2 separate regions of the Homo sapiens genome follow, and region 2 is linked to region 1. Evidence: fine-mapped expression QTL. A gene starts in region 1. The other region holds a variant in brackets. All regions are shown on one strand. Distances are from middle to middle. Region 1 holds the start of KIF27 (kinesin family member 27). Region 2 holds the start of LOC101927575 (a long non-coding RNA gene).

Region 1 (16,838 bases):
CATGGGATTCCATTGGGCCTTTATTTCTACAGTAATAATGTTTCCCAGTTCATTAATCTAAATATTAAATAACCAGGGAGTTAGAAAATTAAGGCAAGGAGATAAGTAAGGAACTGTACACACGTTTTTTTGTTTTTTGAGATGGAGTCTAGGCTGGAACGCAGTGGTGAGATCTCGGCTCTCTGCAACCTCTGCCTACCAGGTTCAAGTGATTCTCCTGCCTCAGGCCTCTCGAGTAGCTGGGGTTACAGGCGCCCGCCACCACACCCAGCTAATTTTTGTATTTTTAGTAGAGACAGGGTTTCACCATATTGGCCAGGCTGGTCTCAAGCTCCGAACCTCAGGTGACCCGCCCGCCTCGGCCTCCCAAGTGCCAGGATTACAGGCGTGAGCCACCGTGCCCAGCCTGTACATGTGTTAAAAACAAACATTAGTACTAGATTTTATAGCTATGCATTGAAAAATAGCATCTCCTCTTTGCCACAATTATTAGAAATAAATCCATGAAAATAGTTTTAAGAATTTCAATAAGTCAACATAAATTTAAAACTAAATTTGTATTCAAAAATAATCAAAACTAACAGAAAAACTGCTTTTTCTACTTCTAAATATTATGTTGTACTTATTTCTGAAGATCTCTGCTAGAATTAATACATTAAAATTTAAATTGATGGCTGTAGTTTCCTGGCTAAAAATATATATAAACAAATAATTGGTAACTACATTTACAATGAACACTTTTTTTTTTTTTTTTTTTGAGACGGAGTCTCGCTCTGTCGCTCAGGCTGGAGTGCAGTGGCGCGATCTGGGCTCACTGCAAGCTCCACCTCCCGGGTTCACACCATTCTCCTGCCTCAGCCTCCAGAGTAGCTGGGACTACAGGCACCCGCCACTATGCCTGGCTAATTTTTTCTATTTTTAGTAGACATGGGGTTTCACCGTGTTAGCCAGGACGGTCTCGATCTCCTGACCTCGTGATGCGCCTGTCTTGGCCTCCCAAAGGGCTGGGATTACAGGCGTGAGCCACCGCGCACGACAGAACACTCTTTTTTTTTTAAATATATATATTTTATTATACTTTAAGTTCTAGGGTACATGTGCACAACGTGCAGGTTTGTTACATATGTATACATGTGCCATGTTGGTGTGCTGCACCCATTAACTTGTCATTTACATTAGGTATATCTCCTAATGCTATCCCTCCCCCCTTCCCCCACCCCACAACAAGCCCCAATGTGTGATGTTCCCCTTCCTGTGGCAGAACACTCTTAAAAATAAATGTAAAAAACAATTCCATTTACAATAGCATCAAAAAGAATAAAATACTTAGAAATAAATTTAACAAAAGATGTGTAAAACATATAGTCTGAAAACTATAAAATACTGTTAGAAGAAAGCACAAGATGTAAATGAAAAAACATCTCATGTTTATGAATTGAAAGATATATTAATATGTCAGTATTCCCCAAATTATCTACAGACTCAATGCAATACCTATCAAAATGTCAGCTGACTTAGTTGCAGAAATTGACAAGCTGATCCTAAAATCACAGAAAAACTCAAGAGACAGAGAATAACCAAAACAATATTGAAAAAGAACAAAGTAAGAGGACTCACACTTTCCTAATTTCAAAACCAAACAACAGTAATCATGATAGTGTGGTACTGGCATAAAGACAGACATATAGATCAACAGAATAGAATTGAGAATCCAGAAATAAACCCTCACATTCATGGGCAAGTGATTTTCAACAAAGATGCCAAGACAATTCAACTGAAGTATAAGAATACTCTTTTCAACAAATGGCACTGGGACAATGGATAAAATAATGAAGTTGGACTCCCTACCTCATATCATATACAAAAGTTAACCAAAAATGGACCATAGACCTAAACATAAGAAGTAAAACTACAAAACTCTTAAAAGACAGGAGTAACTCTTTATGACCTTGGATTTGGCAATAATTTCTCAGATATGACACCAAAAGCAATAAAATAAAAAATACCAATTTGAACATTATACATTGTATACATGTACTGAAAAATCACACTGTACCCCATAAATATGTACAATGATTTTGTCAAACAAAAATAATAATAAAAGCAAAAAATAAAGATGAAGTATAGATTAAAAAATAAGTAAGACCCAGCCTGGGCAATATAGTGAGACGCCATGTCTACAAAGAAATTTTTTTTTTCAATCAGCTCAGCATGGTAGTACGCACCTGTGGTCTCAGCTACTTGGGAAGCTAAGGCGGGAGATTGGCTTGAACCCAGCAGCCAGAGGTTACAGTGAGCTGTATCTGCACCACTGCACTATAACGTGGACAACACTATAATGTGGACAGCAGAGCAAGAACTTGTCTCAAAGAGAGAGAGAAAGAGAGAACGAGAGAAATGGGGGGGGGGCAGGACAGGGAGGGAGAGGAGGGAGGGAGGGAAGGAAAAACGACATCAAAATTAAAAACTTTGTGCCTCGAAGGAAACTACCAAGAAAGTGAAAAGACAACTCACTGAATGGGAGAAAATATTTGCAAGACATATATCTAACAAGGAACTTGCAACTAGAATATATAAATATTATAACTCAAAAAGTTTTTTAAAAATTTTAAATAGGCAAAGCATCCGAAAAGGCAGTTCTTCAAAGAAGATATACAAATGAATAATGAGCACATGAAAAGATGCTCACCATCATTAGCTATCAGGAAAATGCAATCAAAATCACAATGAGAGGCCAGGTGCACAGTGGTTCATGCCTGTAATCCCAGAATTTTAGGAGACTGAGGTGGGAGGATGACCTGAGGTCAGGAGTTCAAGACCAGCCTGGACAACATGGTGTAACCCCATTGCTACCTAAAATACAAAAATTAGCCAGGCGCAGTGGCTCAAACCTGTAATCCCAGCATTTTGGGAGGCCGAGGTGGGAGGATCACCTGAGGTCAGGAGTTCGAGACCAGCCTGAACAACATGGTGAAACCCCGTCCTTACTAAAAATACAAAAATTAGACGGGCATGGTGGTGGGCGCCTATAATCCCAGCTACTAGGGAAGCTGAGGCAGGAGAATCGCTTGAACCCAGGAGGCAGAGGTTGCAGTGAGCTGAGATCGAACCACTGCACTCCATCCTGGGCGATACACCAAGACTGTCTCAAACAAACAAACAAACAAACAACAACCACAATGAGATACCAATCCACATCCACTAGCACTGCTATAATAAAAAAGACAGATCATAAGTGTTGGCAGGGTATAAAGAAATTAGAACCCTCATACACTATTTGTGGGAAGGTAAAATGGTATAGCCACTTTGGAAAACAGACTGACATTTCTGCAAAAAGTTAAACATACAGTTATCTCTTGACCCAGCAATTCCACTCCATCAAATGATCCAGCAATTCCACTCCCAAGAGAAATGAAAACATTGTGTTCGCATAAAAACTTACATACAAATGTTCAGTTTTGGAAGGATAAAGCTTATACAAAATTTAACAAGTAATCTATGACAATGTTTGAGTGCAGATGATGAAAAGTAATGAATTTGAGGTGAGGTTAGGTTCTTTGGAAAAGCTGCTGAGTCTTGAAGATTACCATTAAGTAACACAGACAACTAGACTGAAATAATATTTTATTAATAACACTAACAACAATGAATTGATAATATTCACTACCCTTGAAAAAAAAAAAACCATGGCCCAGCACGGTGGTTCACATCTGTAATCCCAGCACTTTGGGAGGCCAGGGCGGGTGGATCACTTGAGCCCAGGAGTTCGAGACCAGCCTGGGCAACATGGAGAAACCCTGTCTCTACTAAAAATACAAAAATTAGGCAGGCATGGTGGCGTGCGCCTGTAATCCCAGCTACTCAGAAGGCTGAAGCGAGAGGATCCCTCCTGAAAACAAAACAAAACAAATGTGAGCCACGATGCCCAGCCTCATTTCTTGGGGTTTTTAATGGTAATATCTATAAAGAATTTGGTTATAAAGGCAACTGAAACTTATTCTAAGCATTAAAAAAAATAATAATGGGGCCGGGCACAGTGGTTCACACCTGTAATCCCAGCACTTTGGGAGGCCAAGGCAGGTGGATCGCTTCAGCCCACGAGTTCCAGACCAGCCTGGGCAACATGGTGAAACCCTGTCTCTACTAAAAATACAAGAATGTGCCAGGCTGTGGTGACGCACCTGTAGTCCCAGCTACTTGGGAGGCTGAGATTGGAGGATCGCTTGAGCCCGGGAGGTTGAGGCTGCAGTGTGCCACTGCACTCCAGCCTGAGTAACAGAGCGAGACCCTGTCTCAAAACAAAACAAACAAACAATAGTAATGGTCCACAAACATAGGGCTTGTAAAACATCAATATACAAGAAATAAAGTTTTTACACAATCCATAGCACTTATACTTCAGATTCTGATCAATTATAGTCATCAGAAACATACGTATTATGTTGCCAATAAATGATTTAAAAAAAAGCAAAATCTGATTGGTCGTATTTAAGTATACTCAACGGGTTTTTGAAATCTGAGCAAAGGCAAGAGAAATATTGAATCCCTCATGTCATGTCACTGGTCAGGAATGAGTGTCTCCAAAAACCGTTGCCATCCCGTACCCTTGATTTCCCAGAAAGCAGTGGTTGTCTTAAATGTGTGGTTTGTTAATTATTTTCATAAAAAACTTGCCAGTAGATGGACAGTAAATCGCATACGGAGCTCAGAAAAGGCCCCAAATGCGTAAAGACGACAAAAGAGTAAAGAAGGGCAAACAACAAGGATTTTCAACACTGGAGACTTAAAAGGTGTTACTTAAAAGGTGTTTCAAAGAAAGAATCTGGGCGCTTTGCTCTTTATAGTCACCTGCCTCCGAGGGAGGGAGCTCTCGGGCTTGAATGTGCCCAAGGTTCAACCTCTACGGTAGGAAATGCGCCCAAGTTTCAACCTCTACGGTGGGAAATGCGCCCAAGTTTCAACCTCTACGGTGGGAAATGCGCCCAAGTTTCAACCTCTACGGTGGGAAAAAGACGCCTGCGATAAAACAAAGCGCTCGGTGGTGGTGGCCCTCGCGTCGCACCTCACGCCGTGCAGCGACACGAGACGAACACAGGGTGCGCTCTGAAAGGCCGGGTCCCGCGTTCCGGTCGATCGGTGTTCCCCGGGACCCGCTCCTCAGGGCTGACCCAACTTCCTCCGGAAGGGGCGCTCTGCCTCTAGTCGCTCGCCGGCTCCCAGCCCCGACCCCAGACCCCTCGGACGCCCCCATAGGCCTAGCTGGCGCCCCAACCGCCCACCCTCCGCTACCCACCCGCGGCGGCCCCGACCCCAAGCCGGAGCCTACTAGTCCCAACGGCCGGCTGGGGGCGCGGGAGCGGCGGGCGCGGCGGGCTGGAGGGCGGGCACCGCGAAGGGAGGGCGCCCCACTTCCCCGCACCGCCCGCCAGGCCCGCCGAGCACTGACCGGCTCGGGACAGCCCAGGCCCCTGTCGGCGAGCGCTGGACTCCTCAGCTTCGCTCTGCCACACCGCGCAGCCGCCGTCCGCGTCTTTTGTTGTCGCGAGTTCTCCTGGCAACCGGCGAAGCCCGCCTCCCGCCGCGTCCTCTCCTGGATGCCGCGTCCTGGCCCCGCCCCCATCCTGGCCACGCCTCCAAGCCCGCCGCGCAGGAGTCCTGCGTCCCCAGGAAGTCCGCAAAGGGCCGGCCCCTGGGCTTGCCTGCAAATCCGAGTTGTGTCCCACCAACGCGCTGGGACCGGTCTGTGAGGCCTGAGCGCAAGCATCTTTCTACGGGTTCGTGAAATGAGTGAGAACGATTCCACACCGTGTTTCAATATCTTAGCTACCAATTCAGTTTATTTTTATTTTTATTGAGTAAAACTTGCCTAACATAAACCATCTTAAAACTCACAATTCAGTGGCGTTTAATGCATTCACAGTGTTGTGCAACCATCACCTCTGTATATAGTTCAGAAACATTTTCATAACCCCAAAAGAAAATCCCCAAACCAGTTAGCAGTCATTCCTTCTGGTTCCCCTCTCCCCACAACCCCAGCCAGCCACTAATCTACTTTCTGACTCTGTGATAGCTTTACCTATTCTGGGCATTTCTTTATTGATGGAATCATTCAGTATATGACCTTTTGTGTCTAGCTTCTTTTGCTTAATGTTTTCAAGATGCAGTCATGTTGTAACATCTATCAGGACTTCTTTTCTTTTTTTTCTTTTCTTTTTTTTGAGACCGAGTCGCGCTCTGTCGCCCAAGCTGGAGTGCAGTGGCGTGATCTCGGCTCTCTGCAACCTCCACCTCCCGGGTTCAAGCGATTCTCCTGCCTTAGCCTCCCGAGTAGCTGGGATTACAGGCGCGTGCCACCACGCCCGGCTAATTTTTTGTATTTTTAGTAGAGACGGGGTTTGTTTCACTGTGTTAGCCAGGATGGTCTTGATCTCCTGACCTCGTGATCTGCCCGCCTCGGCCTTCCAAAGTGCTGGGATTACAGGCGTGAGCCACCACGCCCGGCCCTTTAGATGGAGTTTCGCTCTTATTGCCCAGGCTGGAATGCAATGGCGCCATCTAGGCTCAACGCAACCTCCACCTCATGGGTTCAAGCGATTCTCCTGCCTCAGCCTCCGGAGTAGCTGGGATTACAGGCATGAGCCACCCTGCCCGGCCCTATCAGGACTTTTTAGGGCTGAAAAAATTCCATTGTATGGATATAGACATACCACATTTTGTTTATCCATTCTTCAGCTGGTGGTGGACATTTGGGCTGTTTCCATGCTGCTATGGACATTCACATACAATATTTGGATGTCTGTTTTCAGTTCCTTTTTTTTTTTTGAGATGGAGTCTCGCTCTGTTGCCCAGGCTGGAGTGCAGTGGCGCTATCTCAACTCACTGCAAGCTCCGCCTCATGGGTTCAAGCAATTCTCCTGCCTCAGCCTCTGGAGTAGCTGGGATTACAGGCATGTGCCACCACCACGCCTGGCTAAGTTTTCTGTATTTTTAGTAGAGACGGGGTTTCACCATGTTGGTCAGGCTGGGCTCGAACTCCCGACCTCAGGTGATCCGCCCACCTTGGCCTCCCAAAGTGCTGGGATTATAGGCGTGAGCCACCGCGCCGAGCCTGTTTTCAGGTCTTTTAGGTATGGACGTAAGAGTGGAATTGCTGGGTCGTATGGTAATATTTAACTTTACCAATTTAGTTTTAAATGCTTTAATGCCTCCTGTTTTTAGTAGCACAATCTAAGCATCTTCAAAAACCCTTCCTTCTCTCATGAAATATAGGAATGAAGGTGGGGGAAAAAAGCTGACTATTTTATTTATAGTTTTTATTTTTTTTTCTTTTAACTGAATTATTTAAAATTTTAAAAATTCAGTCTGGGCACAGTGGCTCACACCTGTAATCTCAGCACTTTGGGAGGCTGAACTGGGAGGGTCACTTGAGCCCAGGAGTTTGAGACCAGCCTGGGCAACATAATGAGACCCCCCATCCCTACAAAAAATCAAAACTTAGCCAGGTGTGGCTGAGTATGCCTGCAGTTCCAGTTACTCTGGAGGTGGAGGTGAGAGAATGGTTTGAGCCTGGGAGGTCAAGGCTGCAGTGAGCTGTTGTTGCACCATGGCATTGCAGCCTGGGTGACAGAATGAGACTCTACCTCAAAAAAATAATAAATAATACATAATTTTTAAAATTCTAAGATTTCATTTATACACATACCTGTGTATTGAGTCATGATGTCAAGGGAATGTCTGATAGTGGCTCAGTATCAATCAAATGCGAAAGCCAGTGTCCTGGGCTTGCTTTTCAGATTGGGGTGATGGATTATTTCCTAGTCTTCCAAGGTTCCCCTCATGATTGGTGGAGATTGTGGTTGCCCAATTTGACTATAGGGCCAAGTTGCATTTTTAGAACTCTTTGAAAACAAACAAAAACTCACATCATGACTGTGAATTGGTAAGTCAGACTGGTCTGCTGACAAAACTTCAATAATTAATAGTACGTAACAATTTAAGTCTAGGAATACCCAGAAGTCTCAACAGAAGTTCTCAAGAGGCCACACAATTGCAGAGAGGAGGTCAGCAAATGCCCAACAGCATTAGAATGGGGCATTTTCCATTGTCCCCAAATTGATGTCTTGAGTCCAGAGTTAGAGAAAAGGAGTTACTTAAGTTCCCCACACTGTGAAGTGAATGCCAGTCATTGCCAACCCCTCCTCCCTAGGATTTATAGCAGGACTAAGCTAATTCCATTCAAATTCCAATCCTATCTCTTTTTTAAGTATCTGTAAGAAAGACTCGGCAGTGGAGTCAAGGGGTCTTGGGCCTTGTGGGTTGGAGAGTAAGAGGCCTCCCACCTAAGTCAAAGGAGGCTCTAAGAGTGACGGGCAAACCCTGTGTGATGTGCTAGAAGAGGAAACCTGGCCTTCTGGTGGGAGCAACTAGGGGAAGAAGTGAGCTGATCTTCTTCTCAAGAATGGAGCGAAGCAACTGAGATGTTGCTGTAGTAGAGCAGTCTGTGTTCCTGCAGTTTAGCAGGGGGAGAAGCTGTGATTTGCTCATGGTCCAGGGGATCCTTTGGAGGGTACCCAAGCTTGAGCCCCATGAAGATTGTCTTGAGGACTGTCTCCTGCAGATAAGTCCCCATCAGTAAGAGGCAGTGGGAGGAGCTGGGCTTGGGATTAGCAGAAGTAATTGAGCCAGTGCTGGATCTTCTTAAGGGAACTAGGTCTTCTCCTTAAGGGAACTGTATCTTTCAGGTCCACTGAAGAACTCTGCATATGTCCCATGGGAGACCAGCTTTGGGCTGCTTGTCCTACAGAGAAAAACATCCATGCCCAGTCCACTTTACCAGAAAAGCAGTAACAAACAGAAGATTACAGCTAGACCAAATTAAATAAAGAAATATGTGCCCTTTTCGCCTAAATCATCTTCCCTCACCCATATTTTGAGAAAAGCTGGATCCAGGAAAGAAAGGAAGTATTAAAGGAAGTATTAAGGAAACCACAGATCATACCTCTTCTCCCACTTTAAATTCTTTTAATGTTGCTATAATGTTTGATGAATTCCCTTAATTTCTCTGGCGGGGAGAAAAGAAGCTTTATACTTTAAAAATGGGGTTTCTTTAAAAATGGGGGTGGGCGGTGGTGCACGCCTGTAATCCCAGCACTTTGGGAGGCTGAGGCGGGCGGATCATGAGGTCAGGAGTTCGAGACCAGCCTGGCCAACATAGTGAAACCCCGTCTCTGCTAAAAATACAAAAATTAGCCGGGCATGGTGGCATGGCCCTGTAGTCCCAGCTACTCAGGAGGCTGAGGTGGGAGAATCGCTTGAACCCAGGAGGCGGAGATTGCAGTGACCCGAGACCATGCCATTGCACTCCAGCCTGGGTGACAGAGTGAGACTCCGTCTGAGAAAAAAAAAGGGGGAGGGGTGGTTTCTGTGCCATCATTTTGCCTTTGGCTCCTTAACTTAGTGCAGAGAATGTTAGCTTTCCTAAGGAAACATACTGCTTGGGTCCTGTCAACTGGTGCCAGGTGGATTTGCTTGGCCCTATGGTCAAATTGGGCAACCACAATCTCCACCAATCATGAGGGGAACCTTGGAAGACTAGGAAATAATCCATCACCCCAATCTGAAAAGCAAGCCCAGGACACTGGCTTTCGAATTTGATTGATACTGAGCCACTATCAGAAATTCCCTTGACATCATGACTCAATACACAGGTATGTGTATAAATGAAAACAAGGCCAGGCACAGTGGCTCATGCCTGTAATCCCAGCACTTTGGGAGGCCAAGGCAGGTGGATCACTTGAGGTCAGGAGTTCGAGACCAGCCTGGCCAACATGGTGAAACCCCTCTCTACTAAAAATACAAAAATTAGCCGGGTGTGGTGGTGCGTGCCTGTAGTCCCAGCTACTCGGGAGGCTGAGGCAGAAGAATCACTTGAAACCGGGAGGCAGAGGTTGCAGTGAGCCAAAATCATGCCACTGCACTCCAGCCTGGGAAACAGAGCGAGAGTCCGTCTCAAAAAAAAATAAATAAAATAATAAAAATAAAAATACAAAAATTAGCTGGGTGTGGTGGCACGAGCCTGTAATCCCAGCTACTCGGGAGGCTGAGGCAGGAGAATCACTTGAATCCTGGAGGCAGAGGTTGCAGTGAGCCGAGATTGCACCACTGTACCCCAGCCTGGCGACAGAGCGAGACTCCATCTCAATAAATAAATAAATAAATAAATAAATAAATAATAAATAAATGAATGAAAACAAAAGTTTTGGGAAACAATACTTACCTTTACTAAGTGCAATGTTCTATGTATTTTATTTTATTCTATTCTACTTTTCTTTTTTTTAGAGACAGGATCTTGCTATGTTGACCAGACTGGTCTCGAACTCCTGGCCTCAAGTGATCCTCCCATCTCAGCCTCCCAAAGTGCTGGAATTACAGGAGTGAGCCACCATGCCTGGCCCTATTCTACTTCAATTTTTTTTTTTTTTTTGAGACAAGGTCTCACTCTGTCACCCTGGCTGAGTACAGTGGTGCAATCATGACTCACTGCAGCCTCAACCTTCCAGGCTCAAGCAATCCTCCCACCTCAGCCTCCCAAGTATCTGGGAATACAGGCACCGGCCACCATGCTCAGCTAATTTTTTATTTTTTTGTAGAGATGGATTCTTGCTGTGTTGCCCAGGCTGGTCTTGAACTCCTAGCCTCAAGTGATCCTGCTGCCCTGGCCTCCCAAAATGCTGGGATTACAGGCATGAGCAACCATACCCAGCCCAATTTTTCTTAATGTTGATTACAACCCTTTAAATTGATTTCATGACCTACTAATGGATTGCAGCCTGCAATTTGAAATATTCTGGTCTAAGGTAACAATCTGGCTGAAAATGGATGAAAAATGACATTTTCATCTACTAAACACTATTATACACCTATTACCTTATTTATCTATTGCTGAACTATTTCTTCAGATCTTAGTGGCTTAAAACAAATTTCTTGGCCGGGCTCGGTGGCTCATACCTGTAATCTCAGCACTTTGGGAGGCCGAGGTGGGCGGATCACAAGGTCAGGAGTTCAAGACCATCCTGGCCAACATGGTGAAACCCCGTCTCTACTACAAATACAAAAATTAGCTGGGTGTGGTGGCAGATGCCTGTAATCCCAGCTACTTGGGAGGCTGAGGCAGATAATTGCTTGAACCCCGGAGGCGGAGGTTGCAGTGAGCCAAGTTTGCACCACTGCACTCCAGCCTGGCAACAGAGCAGGACTCCATCTCAAAAAAAAAAAAAAAAATTCTTATGTCGTAGCTTCTATAGGTCAGAAATCTGAGCATGGGTTAGCTAGATCCTCTGCTTCAGGGCTGTCACAAGGTTGCAATCAAGGTGTCAGTCAGGGCCACGAACATTTCAGGGTCAACTGGCAGAATCTGTTTCCAAGCTTCTATAGTGTTTGGTGGTAGTTCTTGAGGGTTGTTGGACTGAGGGACACATTCCTGCTGGCTATTAGCCAGAGGCTGCCCTCAGTTCCTTCCCCTTAGTTCCTTGAACAGGTGGCCCTCTGCATCACATTGAGCATGTAAGATGAGCCATGGAAAGAAAATCAGCAAAAGAGAAGTCAGAGTCACTTATAACTTGATTGTAGACAGGATATCCCATCACCTTTGCCACATTCTGTTCATTAGAAGCAAGTCACTGGGTCTATCCCACATTCAGGAGACAGGTTGCATGAAAGTATGAATACTAGGAGGCAGGATTCATTGGAGGCTACCTTTATTTCCTCCCCGCCTCCACCCCATTCCCTATTCTAATCACCAAATTCTGCTTGTTTTACATCTGAATATTTCAAATCCTTTCTACTCTAGTTCAAGATTTCACAATCACTCACCTAGACTACTGCAACAGCCTACCAACTAGTCCCCCTGTCTCCAGTCTTGCACTTACAAATCCACCCTCCACACCTTCTACACTGATCTATCTAGGACATGAATCTCACTGTCTGTCCTTTGCCTAAAGCCTTCCTGTGATGGCATGGAGAATACTATTCCTTAACAGCTGGAATGGGAAATCTATATGTGGACAGACAAAGTTTTGCTGAGAAGATGCTTTGCTAGCCTGCCCCTAGGTGGAAGATAAGCCTTGGAAGCCTGATTTGGTTGGTACCCAAGCTTCAGAGAGGAGGGTGGTGTTGCTCATATGAGACAAGGGGAAGAATTATTTGACTGCTCTTGAGAAGGAATGAGGAAGATGGGGGAAGGGGGTGGTGTTGGGAGAAGCTGAAGCAGAGAGGAGGCAGAGAATAACTGATAAGGGAATCCCAGGGACACTGGGAATGGCTAACGGAGGCATTTATTGATTGATTGACTGAGACAGAGTCTCGCTCTGTCACCCAGGCTGGAGTGCAATGGCACAATCTCAGCTCACTGCAACCTCTGCCTCCCGGTTTCAAGCGATTCTGCCACCTCAGCCTCCTGAGTAGCTGGGATTACAGGCAAGCGCCTCCACTCCTGGCTAATTTTTGTATTTTTAATAGAGACGGGGTATCACCATGTTGGTCAGGCTAGTCTCGAACTCCTGACCTCATGATCTGCCTGCCTCGGCCTCCCAAAGTGCTGGGATTCCAGGCGTGAAACACCGCGCCCACCCAGTGGTGGCCTTTATGTTCCTGCTGTGAAGTGTGCAATTCAAACCCCTTCCTCTGTCTCCCCTGCAAAATCTTCAATGATGTCTGCATTGCTAACTTACACATTTGTCCAGTCTGGTGCTGGACAAAACCATAGGTTGACCATGTGGACCTAGAAGGCAGAAGATTAGAAGAAAGCCAAAGGTGTAGTGGGTCATTTCTGCAATCCCAGCACTTTGGGAGGCCGAGGCAGTAGGATCAGTTGAGGACAGGAGTTCAAGACCAGCCTGGGCAACACAGTGTGAATCCCTTCTCAAAAAAAAAAAAAAAAAAAAGAAAAAGAAGAAAGAAAGAAAGAAAGAAAGAAAGAAAGAAAGAAAAGAAAGAAAGAAAGAAAGAAAGAAAGAAAGAAAGAAAGAAAGAAAGAAAGAGAAAGAAAGAAAGAAAAAAAAAAAAAAAAAAACAATTAGTTGGGCATAGTGGCTTGCACCTGTAGTGCCAGCTACCTAGGAGGCTAAGGCAGAAGAATTGCTTGAGCCCAAGCGTGGGAGGCTGCTGTGAGCTATGATTGAGCCACTGTACTCCAGCCTGAGTGACAGAGCAAGACCCTGTCTGTAAAATAAAATAATTTTTAAGACTAAAATAAAAAATCATAAGATGTAAAAATTTTCAACAAAATTCACTAAAATGATAACCACCATCATCTCTGGATGGTGGAGTTAAACGTTATGACTTTTTTAAAAGACAAGGTCTTACTCTGTTGTCCAGGCTGGAGTGTAGTGGTTTGATCACAGGTCATTGTAACCTTGAACTCCTGGACTCAAATGGTCCTCCCACTTCAGCCTCCAGAGTAGCTAGGATACAGGTGCACACCACCATGCCTGGCTAATATTTTATTTTTTTTTGTATTTGTTTTTTGTTTGTTTGTTTTTGTTTTTTTGAGACAGAGTTTCACTCTTGTCACCCAGGCTGGAATGCAATGGCATGATCTCAGCTCACTGCAACCTCCACCTCCTGGGTTCAAGTGATTCTCCTGCCTCAGCCTCCTGAGTAGCTGGGGTTATAGGCCCCCGCCACCATGCCCAGTATTTTTAGTAGAGATGGGGTTTTGGCATGTTGGCCAGGCTGGTCTCAAACTCCTGACCTCAGGATACACCTGCCTCGGCCTTCCAAAGTTCTGGGATTGCAGGCGTGAGCCACTGCGCCCGGTCTAATTGAATTTTTTGTAGAGATAGGGTCACTCTATGTTGCCTGGGCTGGTATTGAACTCCTGGTCTCAAGCCTTCCTTCCCACCTTGGCCTCCCAGAGTGCTGGGATTAGAGGTGTGATTCACTGTGCCCAACCTGTTATTTATCTTTATATCTCTATTGTTTGTTTGTTTGTTTGTTTGTTTGAGACGGAGTCTTGCTGTGTCACCCAGGCTGGAGCGCAGTGGCACAATCTCAGCTCGCTGCAAGCTCCGCCTCCCGGGTTCACGCCATTCTCCTGCCTCAGCCTCCCAAGTAGCTGGGACTACAGGCACCCACCACCACGCCCAGCTAATGTTTTTGTATTTTTAGTAGAGATGGGGTTTCACCGTGTTAGCCAGGATGGTCTCGATCTCCTGACCTCGTGATCTGCCCACCTCGGCCTCCCAAAGTGCTGGTATTACAGGCGTGAGCCACTGCGCCCGGCCTTATGTCTCTATTGTTGAGCACAGTCAATGTCTAATACATAATAGATAATAAGCACATCCCAGAGAGTCAATGAATGTTTATGGAAATAAAAAAATTTAAAAACAGAAAACAAGTAACTTGCTCAAGCCTACATGGTTAAGTGACAAAGGCAAGACTGAAGCTTCCATCTGTCAGATGACAAAGTCAACACACCTCCCCAGAGGCTGAGCTGAGCAGAGCTGCAGTATTCTATATAATGAATCTCAAGTTTTGTTGTTTGTGTTACAGCTGATTGGCTGCAATCAGGATCCAAACATGGACCATATATGGCATTTGATTGATATGTACCTTAATTCTCTTTTAATCAATAACAATTACCCTCACCTTTAAAAAAATTGTGGTAAAATGTACATAACATAAAATTGACTATCTTAACACTACTGAGCTGTACACTTTAAAATTGTTAAGTACTGGCTGGGTGTGGTGGCTCACACTGTAATCCCAGCACTTTGGGAGGCCGAGGCGGGTGGATCACCTGAGGTCAGGAGTTCAAGACTATGTGGCCAAAATGGCGAAACCCCATCTCTACTAAAAATACAAAATTAGCTGGACATGGTGGCGCATGTCTGTAATCCCAGCTACTCAGGAGGCTGAAGGCAGGAGAATCACTTGAACCTGGGAGACGGAGGTTGCAGTGAGCCGAGATCATGCCACCGCACTCCGGCCTGGGCGACAGAGCAAGATTCCATCTCAAAAATACATACATACATACATGCATACATACATACATAAAATGGTTAAGTACCTTCACATTGTTGTACAGCCAATATCCAGAACTCATTTCATCTTGGAGAACTGAAACTCTACACCCGTTAAACAATAACTCACTATTTCCTTCTTTCTCTGACCCCTGGCAGCCACCATGCTACTTTCTGTCTCTATGGATTTGACTATTCTAGGTTATAGAAGTGGAATCATAGAGTATTAGTCCTTTTGTGACTATTTCACATAGTATGATGTCCTCAAGTTTCATCCATGTTGTTACATATATCAGAATTTCCTTTCTTTTTGAGGCTGAATTAATATTCCATTGTATGTATGTATCACAAATTGTTTATCCATTCATCCACTGTTGGTCCCTTGGGTTGCTTCCACCTTTTGGCTATTGTTAATTATGCTGCTGTGAACATGTATGCATAAATATCTCTTTGAGAAACTTTCAGTTTTGGGGATTATTGCTATGGATTGAATGCTTGTGTTCCCCAAAATTCATGTTGAAACTCTAAATCCCAATGTGATAGTATTTACAGGTAGGGCCTTTAGGAGGTAATTAGATTTAGATGAGGTCATGAGGGTTGAACCCCATGATGGAATTAGTGTCCTTTTAAGAAGTGGAAGAGGCCGGGTGTGGTGGCTCTTGCCTGTAATCCCAGCACTTTGGGAGGCTGACGCGGGAAGATGGCTTGAGGCCAGGAGTTTGAGACAAGCCTGGGCAACAAGGGGAGACCCTGTCTTTACAAACTATTTACAAACTGGCTGATTGTGGTAGCATGTGCCTGTAGTCCTAGCTACTTGGGAGGCTGAGGGTGAGAGGATCAATTGAGCCCAGAAGGTTGAGGCCACAGTGAACTGTGACCATGCCACTGTATTCCAGCCTGGGTGACAGAGCGAGACCCAGTCTTAAAAGAAGAAAGAGACAGACAGAGAGAGAAGGAAAGAAAGAAAGAAGAGAAAGAAGGAGAGAAAGAAAGAAAGAAAGAAAGAAAGAAAGAAAGAAAGAAAGGAAAGAAAGAAAGAAAGAAAGAAAGAAAGAAAGAAAGAAAGAAAGAAAGAAAGCAAGCAAGCAAGCAAGCTGCTATTTGTCCTATAGGATTTCTCACACTTTAGAATTGGCTGATCATATACTGTATTTTCATTTAACTTGTTCCTCTGTTTCCTACATTTCCTGTTAACCAGTAAGTTAGATCTAGATTCTTGATTAGATTCAGGTTCAATTCTTCTGGCAAGAATAATTCATAGATGGGCATATGTACTTCCTGTTGCAACACACCAGGAGGCATGTAATGTCTGCATATCCTGCTTTTGGTGATGTTAAGATTATAGATGAGTACAGATATTTTTCAGTATAATCCATCCATTAAAAAGTTCCTCATCGGCTGGGCATGGTGGCTCATGCCTGTAATCCCAGCACCTTGGGAGGCCAAGGCGGGTGGATCACTTGAGGTCAGGAGTTCGAAACCAGCCTGGCCAACATGGTGAAACCCCATCTCTACTAAAAATACAAAAATTAGCCAGGTGTGGTGGCACATGTCTGTAGTCCCAGCTACTCAGGAGACTGAGACAAGAGAATTGCTTAAACCTGGGAGGCGGAGGTTGCAGTGAGCCGAGATGGCACCACACTGCACTTCCAGCCTAGGCAACAGAAGGAGACTCTGTCTGGGAAAAAAAAAAAAAAAAAAAAAGTTCCTCATTAACATTTTACCTAGAAGCCATTGAGGATCATTTCCCATATCTATTATTTCGTTAGGGATTGCACAATGGTAATGTTCTAATATTCCTTTTTGCATTTATTAGCT
Region 2 (16,838 bases), 130 kb after region 1:
TAGCATAAGGAAAAGCATAGACACAAATTGAGCTGACTTATTCAGGAGGCATTAAGGAGAGTTGCCTACTTAACAAAGAAGAGGGTTGGTTGGGAAATTAGATAGTCAAGGGAAGCCTGTGGTGAAGATTGCTGGGTACCAGGTGGGAAGTTTGCACTTGGAGTCAGAGAGATCTGGGCTTGAATTCTGCCTCTAGTACTTGCTGCGGACAGTGGTTTTGGACAGATTATCTCTTCTGAGCCTGTTTTCTTCTGTAAAATAGAATTAATACACACTATCCCTGTGGGATGTTGGTGAGTAAAAGAGACAGCAGTGCCTGGCACAGAGTAGTGCTCAGTTAATGGACCTATGGCCACATTGACCCAGTATGCTGAAGGTAATGACTGAGGGTTCTGGAGTGGGGAGGTTGCAGGCAGGCAGTGATAGGTTGTCAAGGTGAACACAAATGCTGCAAGCAGGAAGGACAGACTTACTCACTTTGATGAGAAGATAATTCCCACTGGACTTCTGGCATTGTAAGGGTAGTGTGATAATTCCAGCCTTCCTGCTTCAGTTGGGTGTTGTGCTGACACGGCCTAAGATGGTTTACGGCTGCTCAGTATTACTAAAATCACTTATACTTAGCAAATAAATTCCCTCGCTACTCTTGGATTGGATATTTTAAATCCCCCAAAGACAAGTAAGTGGTGAGTTGAAGGCAAATAAAAATAGATCCCATTTGCTGGGCATTGTGCTAGGTACTTTATGGATATTCCACATGATTATGAAAATGAAAGAAAACTAAGATATGTTCAGATTAATTAAAATATATAGTTATATTTTTCTAAAATTTGTTTAAATAATGAACAGGTTAAAAACATTTGTAAAGGAAAAAACCAGGATCCTGTAGAAAATTGATTTTTTTATTAAAGGTCTTTAGTGAATGGTAACATCTTATATGCAAATGAGGAAAATTATTAAGGTTTAAAGAATGATGATAAAACAAAAACAAGCATCTCCACCCACCCCACAGTTTGAGAGTTAGAATCATTCCCTGCATTTTAGAATTCCCATTGTCCTTCCTCACCCCACTTCCCTCTTTCAGAAGGAGCCCCCTGAATTTTATGTTTAATATTTTCTTGCTTTCTTGTTTAATTAATTGTAGCAGTCTGTATATGTTTTATTTTTATTTATTTTTTTTTTGAGATGGAGTCTCACCCTGTCACCCAGGCTGGAGAGCAATGGTGTGATCTCACCCCACTGCAGCCTCCGCCTCCCGGGTTCAAGCGATTCTCCTGCTTCAGCCTCCTGAGTACCTGGGATTATAGGCGCCCACCATTGTGCCTGGCTAATTTTTGTATTTTTAGTAGAGATGGGGTTTCGCCATGTTGGCCAGGCTGGTTTCAAACTCCTGACCTCAAGTGATCCACTTGTCTCGGCCTCCCAAAGTGCTGGGATTACAGGCGTGAGCCAATGCGCCCGGCCCAGTCTGTATATGTTCTTAAAGAATATGTTGTTCAGTGCTGCATGTTTTTGAACTTTATATAAATGGAATTGTACAGTTTGTGTCTGTTTCCTTCTTTCCTTCCTCCTAAACATTATATTCTTGAGATTCATCCATGTTGATGTATGTAGCTATACTTGATTTGTTTTGCTGCATAATATTTCATTATAGGAAAAGATCATATCTTCTGGATCCATGTATCCGTGGACATGCAGATAGATTGTTTCCATATTTTGCTTTTACAAATGTTGTTGCTATGGACCTCCTTGTACAAGTCTTGGGGCACACGTGCAATAATTTGTTGAGGGTTTATGCTTATGCATCAGGTAAAATTAGTTTAGTTTGGGCTGTACCTCCTCTTACTCCCTGCTCCCAGTAGTTATGATATCTGACACATCCAAGGTTAAAGAGGCAAGGAATAGGAAAGGTCTCAACTGTTATTCCCTGGACTTTGAAGGTATTAGGCTGAGTCTGTCTGAATTTAGTAGTGATCAGACTTCCTTGGGGCACCTTAGTGGTTTCTTCAGAGATACATTGCTGGGGATCTCCACCTGCAGGTGCCTTGACAGGGTTGAATGACTTCCTTTGGCTGGTCACTTATGATGACCTCAGTATCTCAGTATCCCTTGGACATATATTCGTACATCTTTAGCATCTTTCTGCAGAGGTCTTCACACTATTCCAGGTAGCCCTCATTAGCAAAATCCAAGACTGTTCCACTCCTGCTTGTCCTCCCACTACATTTCCCCTGACTCCCTTATCCCCCTAATGAGAAAGTCAAATAATTAATGGATTTATGGGTTATCATGAGAGTAGGACTGGTGGCTTTATAAGAGGAAGAGAGACCTGAGCTAGCATGTTTGGTCCCCTTGCCATGGGATGCCCTGTGCCACCTTGGAACTCTACAGAGGGTCCTTACCAGCAAGAAGGCCCTCATCAGATGCAGCCACACTACCTTGGACTTCTCATCCTCCATAACTGGAAGGAATCCAATCCTTTATCTTTCTCTCTTTCTCTCTCTCTTTCTTTCTTTTGACAGAATCTTGCTCTGTCACCCAGGCTGGAGTGCAGTGGCATGATCTTGGCTCACTGCAACCTCTGCCTCCCAGGTTCAAGTGATTCTCTTGCCTCATCCTCCCAAGTAGCTGGGATTACAGGTGCCCGCCACCATGTCTGGCTAATTTTTGTATTTTTAGTAGACATGGGGTTTCACCGTGTTGGCTAGACTGGTCTCGAACTCCTGACCTCAGGTGATCTGCCCACCTGGGCCTCCCAAAGTGTTGGGATTACAGGCATGAGCCACTGTGCCTGGCCAGGAATATATTTCTTTTCTTTTTAAATTACCGAGGTTTAGGTATTCTGTTATAAGCAACAGAAAATGAACTAAGACAGGCATCTATACATATATACTTGAAAATACACGGAATATTTCTGGCACATTTTCTATAGCAAACTGATAACACTGATAAAACCAATAATACTGCTTCTGAGGAAGGGAATTCGATTTAAGGTGTTCAGGGATGAAGACAACCTACTTTTTACGTATGTAATATACTATTTTGTATTTTTTGAATTATTCTTTTTAGCATATGCATTACTTTTGGAAAAATGCATTAATTTTGGAAAATAATCTTTAAACAAAAGAAAAAATGAGTTCTATTTGACTATTAGGCCTCTATGATTAATATTTGGCCTTTGTAGCATTGAACACTGCAACCTTAACATGGTAATTTTTTTCCATAATGACTGAGATAATAGTATTTACAATGTAATAAATATGTATGAAAAAAGATTATGACTATATTTTGAGCATAGTGAGTTTGGGGTGTCAGTAGGAAACAGGCAGATGGAAATATCTAACAGGAGTTGGAAATGTGGACTGGAGCACTAGTCAAAACTGAAGATTGTTATAAAAGACTGAGTAAAATACCCAAAGGAGAGAATGTGGAGGGAAGAAATGGGCTCTGGGTATAACCAAAGGCATCAATTACCTCTGGGGTCAGAAGAGGAAAGAGGAGTCAGAGAATGAGAGGCAGATCTGAGAGTGAACAGCTTTATACAAATCATGGGAGAAGATCACGTGAAGAAATGAGAATTGGTGGTAGTGGCTTGCTGCAGAGAATCTGAGGAGAATGAAAACTAAGAAAATCTGTAGATCTGATTTTTCAATTGTTATCAAGAGAGTATTTTCTGTACATGATGAGATGGTTAGAAGATGAAGGCTGTGAAAAAGAAACTTGGTAGTGAAGGGAAGGAGGGAAGGACAGGAATGTAGTTCAAGGGATAGCCTGGTGAGTGGAGGTGGGGTGTGTGTGTGTGTGTGTGTGTGTGTATGTGTGTGTGTGTGTGTGTGTGTATTTTAAGATGGGAAGCACATCAAACCATTTATACACTGGCAGGAAGAAGTCACAGAAGAAAGAATGAAGAAGTATTAAAATGTGGTCAGACTGGGGAGATTAAGAGCCATAAAGAGGGGCTTTCACCTTGAAATAGAGGAAGGTCACTTTTTAATCTGGGACAGCAGTGAAGGAAGCAAAGATAGGGAAGAGACAGGAAGTGATGTTAATGTAGAAGAAGCACCACCACATTTTGAATAAAGGAACAATGAGATCATCTGCAGAGAATAAGGAGATTGGAATAGAAGGGGGCTTTACATTTATAGAAGAGTGTTGTGCATTGTATAATTAGAAAAGAAACAGAAAGGGTCTTAAGTTAGCAAAGCAGGTGTTTTGCAGCAGCATGACATAATGAAAAGAACACTAACTTTGGAGCCAGAAAGACCTGAGTTTGAGTCCTGGCTTCATTCCTTGTTAACAAGTTACCAAACTGATCTTTCTTAATTCCTCAATTTTATTACAGAATAGGACAACAATACCTACTCTGTCAAGCTGTTATGCAGATTCAATGATAGGACATGCTAGTTAATTTTAGTTTCAACAAACATTTACTAATCTCCCATCATGCACCAGATACTCCGCTAGGAGTATCTCTTTATCCTGAGTTTAAAGTCTAGGAGGGGGGAATACACTTCCTCATTTTCTTTTGGGACAAAGAATAAACTTTTGCAGAATTATGAAGGGACTTGCTAAGTACTTTCCTGCTTGTGCACTTTTAAATACTGGATCAGATTCACCGGCGGGTTTTATTCTGGTCTGTCTGGATTTAGCCACTAATGCAAGGGAACCACTTCTCTGAGGCCGTGAGCGATTCTTACCCCTTGCCCTTTGGCAAAGCCCTTCACAGCTGCTGATTATGAAAGATGAGTGGCCTTGGACTGCTGACCACTTCAATGATGACTCGGCTTGTCTCATTCTTATCTCTGCAATAAGCCTGATGTGTATTTTTTGTCTTTTGTTGTTGTTGTTATTGTCGTTGGTAGTATCTAAATATAGAGTTGTTTATCTTTCAAATAGCCTCCCAGAGAGAAATGACCTGAGACTGAGAAACTGAGAACAATTGACCAAAATCATGAACAGTAATGAAATTCATTCATTTATAATCTTCATTACTTTTAGGGAGAGTAAGTAAAGACATGCATCCTTGATTAGAGAGATTGGATTAATTGTAATGATTGGACTTAGAGTGTGAGTCTACAGAAATCTTAAATTAAATTCTAACAGGAGTGCTTTTGCAAAAGGATTATAAATTAAAGCTTTAATTTGTGTACTTTAGTTGTTTAGGTGATTGTAACATCATTTAAGCATTTAATGACAGTGAAATTGTTCCAGTGTCATCGGTGATTTGTGATGAAGATCAGCACGTCCAGATCAGAACTGGGTTAATTGCAGCTCATCACCAAGGAAAGTACAAAACATTCTAACCAATACCAGGACTGTAGTGTAGACATCTTTCCCTTTTTAAGTTCTTTTCCAATGCCACTGAGCATTTATATCCTTGTATTGCATTAATAAGGATTACACTGGCCCCATTTCTAGAACTATGTAAATACCAACCTGACAAAGTTGGTGATAGGAAGTTCATAGATGTTTCTTTTTCATATATTGCCCTCTCAGTTCTCCCAGGTAGGCCAATCTGTTTTCCACAGGACTGATCTATTGCTCTGGTTGTCAGCCTTGTTTGAAAATTATTGCAGTGTCCATGGGCATCAGTGGAATATTCCAGCTGACCTTTGTTAGGCCTTTGAATAAAGAAGACAAAACAAACAAAACCCCAAGCAAGCCAACAACGACAACAATAATTGGCAAATGCCACAGTATCTTCAGTGATTAACCACGATTTTCTTTAGAAACCTTGTGAGTCTGGGCCGGGCATGGTGGCTCACGCCTGTAATCCCAGCACTTTGGGAGGCTGAGGCGGGCGGATCACGAGGTCAGGAGATCGAGACCATCCTGGCTAATATGGCGAAAACCCGTCTCTACCAAAAAAATACAAAAAAATTAGCCGGGCGTGGTGGCGGGCGCCTGTAAGTCCCAGCTACTCTGGAGGCTGAGGCAGGAGAATGGCGTGAACCCGGGAGGCGGAGCTTGCAGTGAGCCCAGATCGCGCCACTGTACTCCAGCCTGGGCGACAGACCTTGTGAGTCTGTTAAAATAGAAGCAGACACAAGATTAATTTGCTTCAAGTGAGATAATCCGTGAAAGGCATTCACTCCACACAGAGCCTGGCACAGGGTCAGTGCTCAAAAACGGCAAGCTTATTACCATTATTTTTATTATTTGGAATTAATGTTATCTGTTTCCCCCTCCCTCTCGCTTTTTGGTCCTCACTTTTTACTCGGAATACCAGTGGAATAAAGGTAAACAGCATCCGTTCTCATTTCTGAGGACAGGCTGCCCTGATGTTGAAGGTGATAGAATGGTCAACAGCCCTGGAAGCCCACTTCAGATTCTGGGTAGCTTTGCTGGGTCACCATGGCCTTGCAAACTGGCAGCTGGCTGGAAGATTGACGCTATGTTTGGCATTGGCTTACAATGGAGAATTGCTATGCGTAGCCAAAAATCTTCCCTGGCAGCCAGGAGTGGAGAGCAGCCTTGGACCCCACTTCACAGCATTCCTTTAAATGATGTTACTGTATTCACAGGCCAGAATTTAAACGTTTGCAGTAACAAGGGAGCCAGTTTTTGGATAGTCAAAGGCATTTTGTCAACAAAAGAGTATTCAGGCCATGCTATATATTTATGGTTCTATTCATCTCACCTTGTAGATAAGGAGGATTTGGAACCGCTGTAGGCTCTAAATAAACTCTTATTTTAATGCAGATGGCTCCTTATTCTAAATAATATCCTTTATATTCTTTTGCCTCAGACTTGGCATTTCTAACTCCTTGATGAATATTTCTACTCAGATTTCCAGCCATTAACACCTGTTCCCAACTCCTTATTTTCTATCTGTGCTATCACGATTATTGAGAAACTGTATATATAGTGATTACAATTGAGGGCTTTGGAGGCTGACTGCTGGGTTTTAAATCCCTGCTGTGCTATTTACTAGGTATGTGGACTTGGATAAGTTATTTGACTTCCTGGTGCCTCCTTACCTCCTCTTTGTAATAATAACACATCCCTCATCAAGTTGTTGTAAGCATTGAATTAAATGTTTAGACCAATGCCTGGAATGTAGTCAGTGCTTGTATCAGTTTGGTTGTATTAGGCTGCAAGTAACAGAACACCAATTAATAATAGCTTAGGCAATAAATACATTTAATTATCTTTTTTTTTTTTTTTTTTTTTGAGACGGAGTCTCCCTCTGTCACCCAGGCTGGAGTGCAGTGGTGCAATCTTGGCTCACTGCAACCTCCGTCTCCCTAGTTCAAGCAATTCTTCTGTCTCAGCCTTCCCGAGTAGCTGGGACTACAGGCTCATGCCACAACATAGTAGAGATGGGGTTTCACCATATTGGTCAGGCTCGTCTCAAACTCCTGACCTTAGGTGATCCACCTGCCTTGGCCTCCCAAAGTGCTGGGATTACAGGCATGAGCCACCACATCTGGCTCATAATTATCTTATATAAGTAGAATTCTGGAGGTGGGAAGTTCCAGCCTTGCTGCAGCAGTTCAGTGGTGCCACCAAAGACTGCATGTCTTTTTCTCTTTCCCTTCTGCCATCTTTCCCATGTCAGCTTTTCATCTTCATGGCTATCACAGGTCACCAGGCTGCTGCAGCTCCAGGGATCAAGGCAAAATGAAGGGGAAAAGGCAGGGGTGGCATCGACTGTCTCTTGCATCAGGAAAGCAAAAGCTTTCCCAGTTCCCAGGAGCCTTCCAAAAGATTTCTCCCTACATCTTATTGCCAGGACTAAGTCACATGTCCTCCCGTGACTTTGAAGGAGGCTAAGAAAGTGACGATCTAGTTTTCCAGCTTCTGTAATAAGAGAAGAGAGTTGGGCATGGTTGTAGAGGCAGCCAGGCCACAGTGACTGCCACAGTGATTAATATATGTTAGCTGTTACTGTTATTATTATTCCAGTTTTTAAAGTTAAAGATGTTGAAATTATTTTTCATTCCCCCTCTTCTTCTTTAACACTCAGTCACCAAGTTCAGCGATTCCTCCTTCTCAATGTTTTCCATGCCTACCCGATCTTTCCTTCATACTATTCCTAATGTTCCGGTGTTATTATCTCATGCATGGAAAAATGCAGTCAGCTTTCTTTCTGTCTCCTCTATCTTCAGTTTCTCCATGCTCTGCTCTATCTTGCACTCCACCAGATGAATCTTCATCAAATATCTCTATCATGCCATGTTATTGCCCAAATTCTTTAATCTCTTCCTATTGTCCACAGTAGTGATTCTTAAACTTCAGCATAATTAGAATCACATGGGAAGGCTGGGTGTGGTGGCTCACGCCTGTAATCCCAACACTTTGGAAGGCTGAGGTGGGTGGATTGTTTTAGCTCAGGACTTTGAGACCAGCTTGGGCAACATGGTGAACCCTGTCTCTACAAAAAATACAAAAATTAGCCGGGCACGGTGGCATGCACCTGTAGTCCTAGCTACTCAGGAGGCTGCTGAGGGGGTGGATTGCTTGAGACTGGGAGGCGGAGGTTGCAGTGAGCCAAGATCAAACTGCTGCACTCCAGGCTGGGTGACAAAGGGAGACTCTGTCTAAAAAAAAAAAGAAGAATCACCTTGGAAACTTGTTAAAAATCAGATGTCTTCTTAAAAGCAGGTATTGAGGTTATAAAATAATATATTCTCAATATACTCACAGTATAATTGGCAACACAAACAAAATAATTATAATTCAGGGAATTTATTTTCTATGTTACTCATTTGGCACATTAAATTTACTGCTTTACATAAGATCCACAATCAGTTATTTTTTCATGTATATATGTCTCATTTCCTTCAATAGATCAGACATTGCTTGAAGGCAGAGATTCTGTATAATACCACACTGCCACTGTAATTAGTCCTAAAATATCCGACACAATTTTTTTGAATAAATCAATGGTATTCATGCAAAATATTCAGTGGGTACTTAATAAATGTTGGACTTATCTAGCAAAAACAATGGAAAACCTCAGACAAGATTGGGTAAAAAACAAAAACAAAAAACACCTCTATCTATTAGAATAGATGTATAGCTTGAAGCAACAGAATTACTCTTGGCTGAGAAATGGCTACAATCTAATAATGTAGATCTTGCATGAATCAAATGGAAAGACACAGTGTAGATCTATCACAAATACTAAGCTTCAAGGGGTGAAAGGGCACTGTTAATCAGTAATTCTATCAGTAATAGGATTAGTTTGATTATTATGGAAGAGATCACCCATTCAATAATGTTCTTTTCCAGGCACTCCTGATACCCACTGGAGGTAATGCTGGTTTTGGGAGCACAATGTATTGTGAATAAAATATACGAAGAAAAAAGGTAATTATTTATACCTGTTTGGTGCCAGGGTCTTCAATGATGAATAAGACCCAGTCTCTCAAGGAACTTGGTATCTAGTAGGAAAAAGAAGCATGCAGACAAGTCTAACAGATGATTTCCAGTATAACCGGAAATCAGAGAGGAGCATGAGTGTGTGAGTGAGGCAGGAGAAGAAGAGAGGATCTCTTCTGTCTGGAAGTGTGAGGACACCTTTTCCCAAGGAGTTATCTGCTCTCTCACCTTCCTTTCAGCTTCTCTTGGAATATTGCTAGAGTTATTATTTTTAT[C/A]ATGTTTGGTCTCACCTTCTCACCAACTACTGAATTTCAGAGGTAAATATCCAAGGAGTTGATAACATCTTTGTTTCTTCATACTAATGAAACGGGAAACAATTTCAGAAGTCATCCAATCCAACCCAGCCTGACAAACAAAATGGTCATCTGTTCTCTCTCTTTCTATCTACTCCTGATTCCCCCAAATCCCCGCATTTCTCAAATATGAGAGACTAAGGATAATCAACCATCCTGCTGTGCCCCGGAAAAAGTACTGAAATGCAGGACTTTCATTGCTAAAATCGGGACAGTCCCAGACAAACCAAGATGAGTTGGTCACCCTAGAGGGCAGTAGAAATAGTTAGAATGAAGGAGCCTGGATTAATCTATGCTAAATTCCTAACTGGGCAATTCCCTTAATGCTGATGGTTGCTTTATAGTATCAGAATATAAATGTGTCTCTGGAAGACAAGCCTATGCAGATTCAGAGCAAACATCCCACCACAGCCTACCAGGCTTGACTCATTCACTGGCTGGGTGAAGTCAACACAAGCATGTGTTTTCAATAAATATTTGATATAACTTTGTTTTGATTATACTGGGCTCTTAGGGGCAGCATTGTGTTCCCACCCAAATTCCTATGCTGAAGTTCTAATCCCAGTACCTCAGAATGTGATTGTATTTGGAGAAAGAGTCTTTACACATAATTAAGGTAAAATAAGGTCATATAGGTGGACCCTAATGCAATATGACTGGTGTCCTTATAAGAGGAGTAGATGAGGACAAAGACACAATAGAGGAAAGGCTGTGTAAACACAAGGGGAGAAGATGGCCATCTATAAGCCAAGGAGTGAGGCCTCAGAAGAAATAACCCTGCTGCCACTTTGATCTTGGACTTCCAGCCTCTGGAATTGTGAGAAAATAAATTTCTGTTGTTTAAGCCACCCAGTCTGTGGTACTCTGGTATTGCAGCCTCAGCAAACTCATATATGGGCATTGTTATGTTGCTTATAACAATGGAAAACGGACTGGGTAATTTATAAAGAAAAGAAATTTATTTCTTCCAGTTACGGAGGCTATGAAGTCCCAGGGCGAGGGGCCACATCTGGTAAGAAACTTCTTGCTGATGGGGACTCTGAACTGAGGCAGGGCAGGGTATCACACAGCAAGAGGGATGAGCGTGTGAATGTGTGAGCTCAGGTCCCTCTTCCTCTTCTTATAAAGCAACCCATTCCACTCCCATGGTAACCCATATATTCATTGACCCTTTAACCCATTCATCCATGAATGGATTAATCCACTTATGAGGGCAGAGCCCTTATGATCCAATCACCTCTTAAAGGCCCTATCTCAATACTGCCACATTGGGGATTAAGTTTCAACATGACTTTTGGAGGGGATAAATATTCAAACTACTGGGCCAGGTGTGGTGGCTCATGCCTGTAATCCCAGCACTTTGGGAGGCCGAGTTGGGCGGATCACAAGGTCAGGAGTTGAGACCAGCCTGGCCAATAGGGTGAAACCCCTTCTCTGCTAAAAATAAAAAAAACTAGCCTGGTGGGGTGGCACATGCCTGTAGTCCCAGCTACTCGGGAGGCTGAGGGAGGAGAATAGCTTGAACCCAGGAGGTGGAGGTTGCAGTAAGCCGAGATCGCACCACTGCACTCCAGCCTGGGCGACAGAGTGAGATTTCATCTCCAAAACAAACAAACAAACAAACAAACTATATATATATACATACATATATATATATGTATGTATATATATTCAAACTACAGCAATTGTCTTGAGTTGGGCTTTCTCAGATGTATATAGTGATTTATGCAGAAGTAGTTTATTTGGGAGGTGATCCCAGGAAGCCCTGATGACAGAGGTGAAGGGAGAGGGAAAGGAAGGAAACTACTTCAGAGCAGGTCACTGCTGGGGGCAACTGGATCTGCATTCCACTGGGGGCCTCTGAAAACTGTGTAGAACACACCTCAGGTTGTCCCACCCGAGGGGCAATTTACCCTCCATCTCCCATTCGTTATGGGGGGAACAGGGATTGGCTTACAGCCTGGCAGCACCTGCCTGCCCTGCACAGTAGTGAGCTAATTTCTGCTGCTAGAGAAAGCCCTCAGGGAGGGTTGGGGGAGCTTGCAATAAGAACTGCAGGTGTGCACAGCAACAGTCTCTGTGTGTTTTATTTGCTTTTGTAATAACAAACAATAAAGATTTCAAAAGCAGGAAAGTGATTGTATTACTGGGAACAATTTTATTTAACTTTAACATTATAACAAATCCATTGCCAGTTTCACTTTGGAATTTGGCCTAGAATAAAAGTGGCTTTCTCTAGGCAGGGTGTGAGATGTGATATAAGCCGTGTTCTTTCAGCGCCCCGGTGGTATCATGCATCAGGCTCCTCACAGTGCCAGACTCACTGTCATTCTTAAATTCCTAGAGATTGGGCCTTGTTAGTGCTAAAGGCCTCTGAGGCTCCTTTAAATCAGTCACATATTGATTAAAATAAGAAGGGAGATTCTCCCTTTCCTACCTAAGCTAGCTGAGGGCATATAGCAAAATCTCTTTTCCTTGTGTCAAAATTAAAACAGGACTCTCAGTGTCCTGCGCCATCTACCCAGGGTAACTTCCTACCCTTCCCATTGCTAAAGGAGATAGATAGTAATTATTCAGCACCCCCCTCCATGAGGACTGACATAGATAATGCAAGTAGAGTTCTCAGCAAAGGGCATGGCTACTAACTGCACACATCGAAGCCCATTGAGAATACTGGTAATTTGTATATTTATTTCATGTAACCAGAAATCTCCATATTTTATTTAAAAATAAATTTTGTCTCTGGGTGTTGTTTCACTTGCGAGTACGCCAGGCTTGTGACTGTGTATCCTTTGTCCTCCTGGCTTAAGTATCTCCAAGTAGAATTATTGGGAAGTTTTTAGATAAAATAAAAATCTTAGGAAAGGTTGGGGCTGGCCTTGGAGGAATAGAGGGGAGGGAAGGAGACAGAACTGGGTCCTGGGAAAAAGGAGGCAGGCAGGCTCCATGCCAAGGGCTGGGATTAATCCTGGGCACCTAGCCTCTTCCTCTCTGAGTTCTCCTTCACCCTTTGCCAGTTTTCACCAGTGACTCTGATAGACTGGGGTGCAAATATAGAAATGACTAATGACATAAAAAAGTTGTTTGTCCATCGTATGTTCTCACTCATAAGTGGGAACTAAGCTATGAGGATGCAAAGGCATAAGAATGATACAATGGACTTTGGTGACTCAGGGGAAAGGGTGGAAAGGGAGTGAGGGATAAAAGACTACAAAGTGGGTTCAGTGTATACTGCTCTGGAGATAAGTGCACCAGAATCTCACAAATCACCAGCAAAGAACTTATGTAACCAAACATCACCCATTCCCCCCAAAACGTATGGAAATAAAACATTTTAAAAAAAGGAAAAGGTTTTAAGGTTTTTAAAATATGTGTAGGGAAAGATTATCTCAGATGTATTTTTAAAAAAACCAAGATATTTTATAGGGATTTAATAGATGTTTTCAAAATCAAAATAAAAGTTGTTTTTCCTCATTAGTAAGCCAGAAAGTTGGAATTAAAACTACAGTGATGTAAGTGCCTGAGTCTTAAGTAAGGGTCTTAATATTAGTCTTAAACAGAGGAGGGATAGGGTTAGAAACTTTCTAAATGAATGCTCCCTGACTGAACTCATTGTTTTAATGCAGCATATAATCCTCTGGATAAATCTCTGAATAAAATTTCAGATGAAAAGAACACTTAAATGGCCACATTATATCAACAGAAAGACAGGCATTTCAGGACTAAAAAAGAACATAACATATGGAATACTGAAAACCTGTACTGTAGCCCAGCGCCAGGCACCAGGTATGTCTTCAACAGATGTTAACTATGATTATGATTATTGTCACCCAATAACCATCTTTCCCATCTAGTATCTCATGGGAATTTCAGAGAATTCACGTGTATGGGAGTATAATGGAGATGGAGACTCTGTAGGGAATTGGGGTGCAGGGAAATTCATCTGTTTCACAATGCACACCCACATCAAGTGACTCTAATTCTCCTTTCAATAAGAGTTTTTGCTCTCAAAAACCCTCTTCTCTTCCAGACTGTCTCTCTCCTATGTAAGCCTAATGTTTTTCTCTCCTGCTTTATAGATTTTCCCTCATACCTCCTTCAAATTCTTTTCTGTGCCATGTAATGTGAAAGCCACAAAAATTGACCTCAGGTCATTACAGTCTACTAGAGGAGCTATAAACAACATTATTTAGAATAGAGAGGTTGACCACCGTGACATGCTAGAGGCATAAACGGTAGGGGTTCAGTGGAGAGGAGACATCATAAGACAAGTGGCATGGGCATTGGTCTTAAAGGATAAATTGGATTCTGTCTGAAAACAGTAGGAAATAATATTATTGGTGGAAGGAACAGTTTGAGCAAAGACACAAATGTGGCAAAAGCCAGGGTCTGATCTTCCCAGCTTGAATGCCAAACTAAGGGATCCAGGCTGTATTCTATAGGCCAACATTTTGAGCAGCTCATCTGAGCCATATTGGAGATATTAATCATAGACTGGTTGTCATGAATGGATGGGAAGAGGCAGGGGCAGGGTGCAGGAGGTCAGTAAAGAGGACATCCCCATTACTCTTCAACTCTCAGATAGTCAGATATAAATGTTAATTCTTGCCTTCTCAGAAATGTTTAAGGCATCTCCATTGTCCACAAAATAAAGAATAAACCCCTTAAAATGCCATTCAAGGCCTCCGTACTAGTCAGCTTGAGCTGCCATAATAAAATACCATAGACTTGGGGCTTAAACAACAGAAATTTATTTCCTCACAGTTATGGAGGCTAGAAGTTCAAGGTTCTGGCCAGTTCAGTTTCTGGTGAGGGCAGATGGCTTGCAAATGGCCACCTTCTTACTGTGTGCTTATGTGGCCTTTACTTGGTGGTGCTCATGGAGAGAGAGAGCAAGCTCTCTGGTGTTTCTTTCTATAAAGGCTAATCCTTTTGAATCAAGACTCCAGGGTCACACCCTATGACCTCATTTAACCTTAGTTCCATAGAGGCCCCATCTCCAAATAGAGCCAGACTGTGGGTTAGTGCTTTGACATACACATTTTTGTGAAACACAAACATTCAGTCCATGACAGCTTCCTAGGAAAACAGTAACTACCATCTGTGAAGTGCCTACTATAGTCTAGGCATTGTGTAAAGTTCTTTACCTACATTATTTCATTTAATCCCCTCAAGAACAGCATGAAGTAGGTATTTTGTTGTCTGCATTTTACAAATGAGTCTCAGGGAAGGTAAGTACTTTGTCTATAGCTGTACAGCCTTTAGGGGAGGAGGCAGACTTTTAAGGGGAATCCACCTTGAGGCAGGAGGAATCCACATTGAAGGGGAATTGGAAGCACTCCACTCCCCTGACTGACTGCTTCCGACTTCAGCTGTGGCTCTGTCCTCCCCACCCACTCTGGTCCCACTGTATAACTCAGCATTTTCTCCACGTGACATAATTCTTGAGGTCTTGTGTTTGCTCATGCTGTTTTCTCAGACTGTAATGCCTTTTTTTTCTTCTTTTTATTAATTGTTCAAGTTTCCCCTCAAGGGGCAATGCCTCTGTGAAACCTTCCTGTACATCTTTTTTGTTGTTGTTGAATCATATGTATGTGAAACCTTTCTAAATATTCCATGCTGTTTCATTTGGCCTTGCATTCTGGTTACCTGTCTAAATGTCTGTATTTCCTTGCCATACCACCAGATTATACATATTTTGAGATATTTTACATGTGTGTATTTTACACCATGCCCAGCACACAGTAGGTGCTTTAATAGACATTTACTGAGTGAAGGTCAAGGTGAGAGTTAGTGAAGCTATAAACTAGAGGAGTGGCAATGGAGATGCAAAGGAGAGGATGGATTGATAAGACCTGGTGACTTTGGATGTGGGGACTGAGGGAGAGGCCAAGATGACTTGAAAGTTTTTCAAGGTAAGAACATCAGTGTTACTATAGAAGCCAGGAGGTGTTGCTACTTGCGGGGAAAGACACCATTAATAGAGGCGGTAGTAGTAATAATAGCAGCTTCCACTAATTAAATACTTGAATCACTCAGCATGCCAAGTGCTTGTCATATATTGCTCACCTATTTCTCATAATAATCTTGTGAGGTGAGCATTATTCTCAATGCATAGATGATGAAATGGAGGCTCAGAGAGATTAAGCAAACTGCTCAAGGGGGCACAACTAGCAAGCATCAGAACTGAGATGCAAACTCAAGTCTGTCTGACTCCAAAGCTTGTGTCCTGAAGTATTATCCTCCTGAAAACTGCCGAGTGACTCTATTTCCTGTTCTCCAAGGGGCAGCAGGGGAGGTCTCGCCATTTGCCGACAACTCTTTGTGGTGTCTGGTGACTGATTGGTGGTCAGTGCCATGTTGGTTCTTCATGACACAGACAATCCCCTGCACACAGATGGGAAGTTCCCAGGGATGGGAGAGAACATGAGATGTCTCAGCCAGGCCCTGGATGTCTCCTTGCCTTCCCTCCTTCTCCTCTCGGGCTGTACAAGCTGTTCAGCAGAAGTTCTTAGAGCATCTAGTCTTGTTCCAAAGAGACATAGCCATGGCCAAAGAGAATCTGAGGAACGCTAGGAAAAGTCACCTCTTCTATGTATTTGGTGTAAACTGGGAAGAAAAGGTCCCAACATATCTCATCACAGTCAGCAGTAAACAAATATCTTTATCAATAGCAGCATCAACAGCTTGTATTATAAGTGGGTGTGAGGGATTCCACTTCTTGGAAGGTCAAGTGTGGGAGATATCCAGGACTCAGGTCACTGAAGTGGGCACATATCCCTAATAACGCAAGAGCCTGGTAATGGAAACAAAGATTTCAAATTTGTCAATGATAAAACTTTTCTTAGTTTTTCATCTTGGAGAAAAAGAGTAAGCTAACAGGAAGTACAAAACAGGAATACATATTGCAGAATTCTTTAGGTAATACTATACTAGGTTTGTGATTGTATTTTAAGACTGATTACATGAAAGAATATTAATTAGGCCTATGAGAAGTAGCAGTATAAGTGGTTTGACAGAAATGTGAGATGAATGTATAGCAGATTTCAGCAGATAATGGCAGAAGAGTTGGGGGATAGGTCTTTTCCAAAGACTAAATGGATTGACTTGTTTATTCCGGCAATGTAAAGGAAGGAGGAATGATTGTGACTTTCTTCC

Evidence for each region.
Region 2: its variant is fine-mapped to the expression of KIF27 in whole blood (INTERVAL, PIP above 0.99).

The regions. Positions count from the first base shown.
Region 1 is chr9:83,915,925-83,932,762 of GRCh38, forward strand. It overlaps KIF27 (kinesin family member 27), which reads right to left and starts at 5,508. Exons shown (of 18, transcript NM_017576.4): 1 at 5,447-5,508. LOC105376335 (serine/arginine repetitive matrix protein 1-like) reads left to right here and starts at 4,977. Exons shown (of 3, transcript XM_011519284.2): 1 at 4,977-5,337; 2 at 5,430-5,774; 3 at 8,742-8,961. The coding sequence starts at 4,977. The coding sequence ends at 8,878. RefSeq lists enhancers at 5,040-5,789, 6,404-6,908 and silencers at 5,111-5,490, 5,521-5,670.
Region 2 is chr9:84,050,064-84,066,901 of GRCh38, forward strand. It overlaps LOC101927575 (a long non-coding RNA gene), which reads left to right and starts at 13,380. Exons shown (of 9, transcript NR_110995.1): 1 at 13,380-13,466. The variant C/A (reference allele first, on the strand shown) is at 9,603.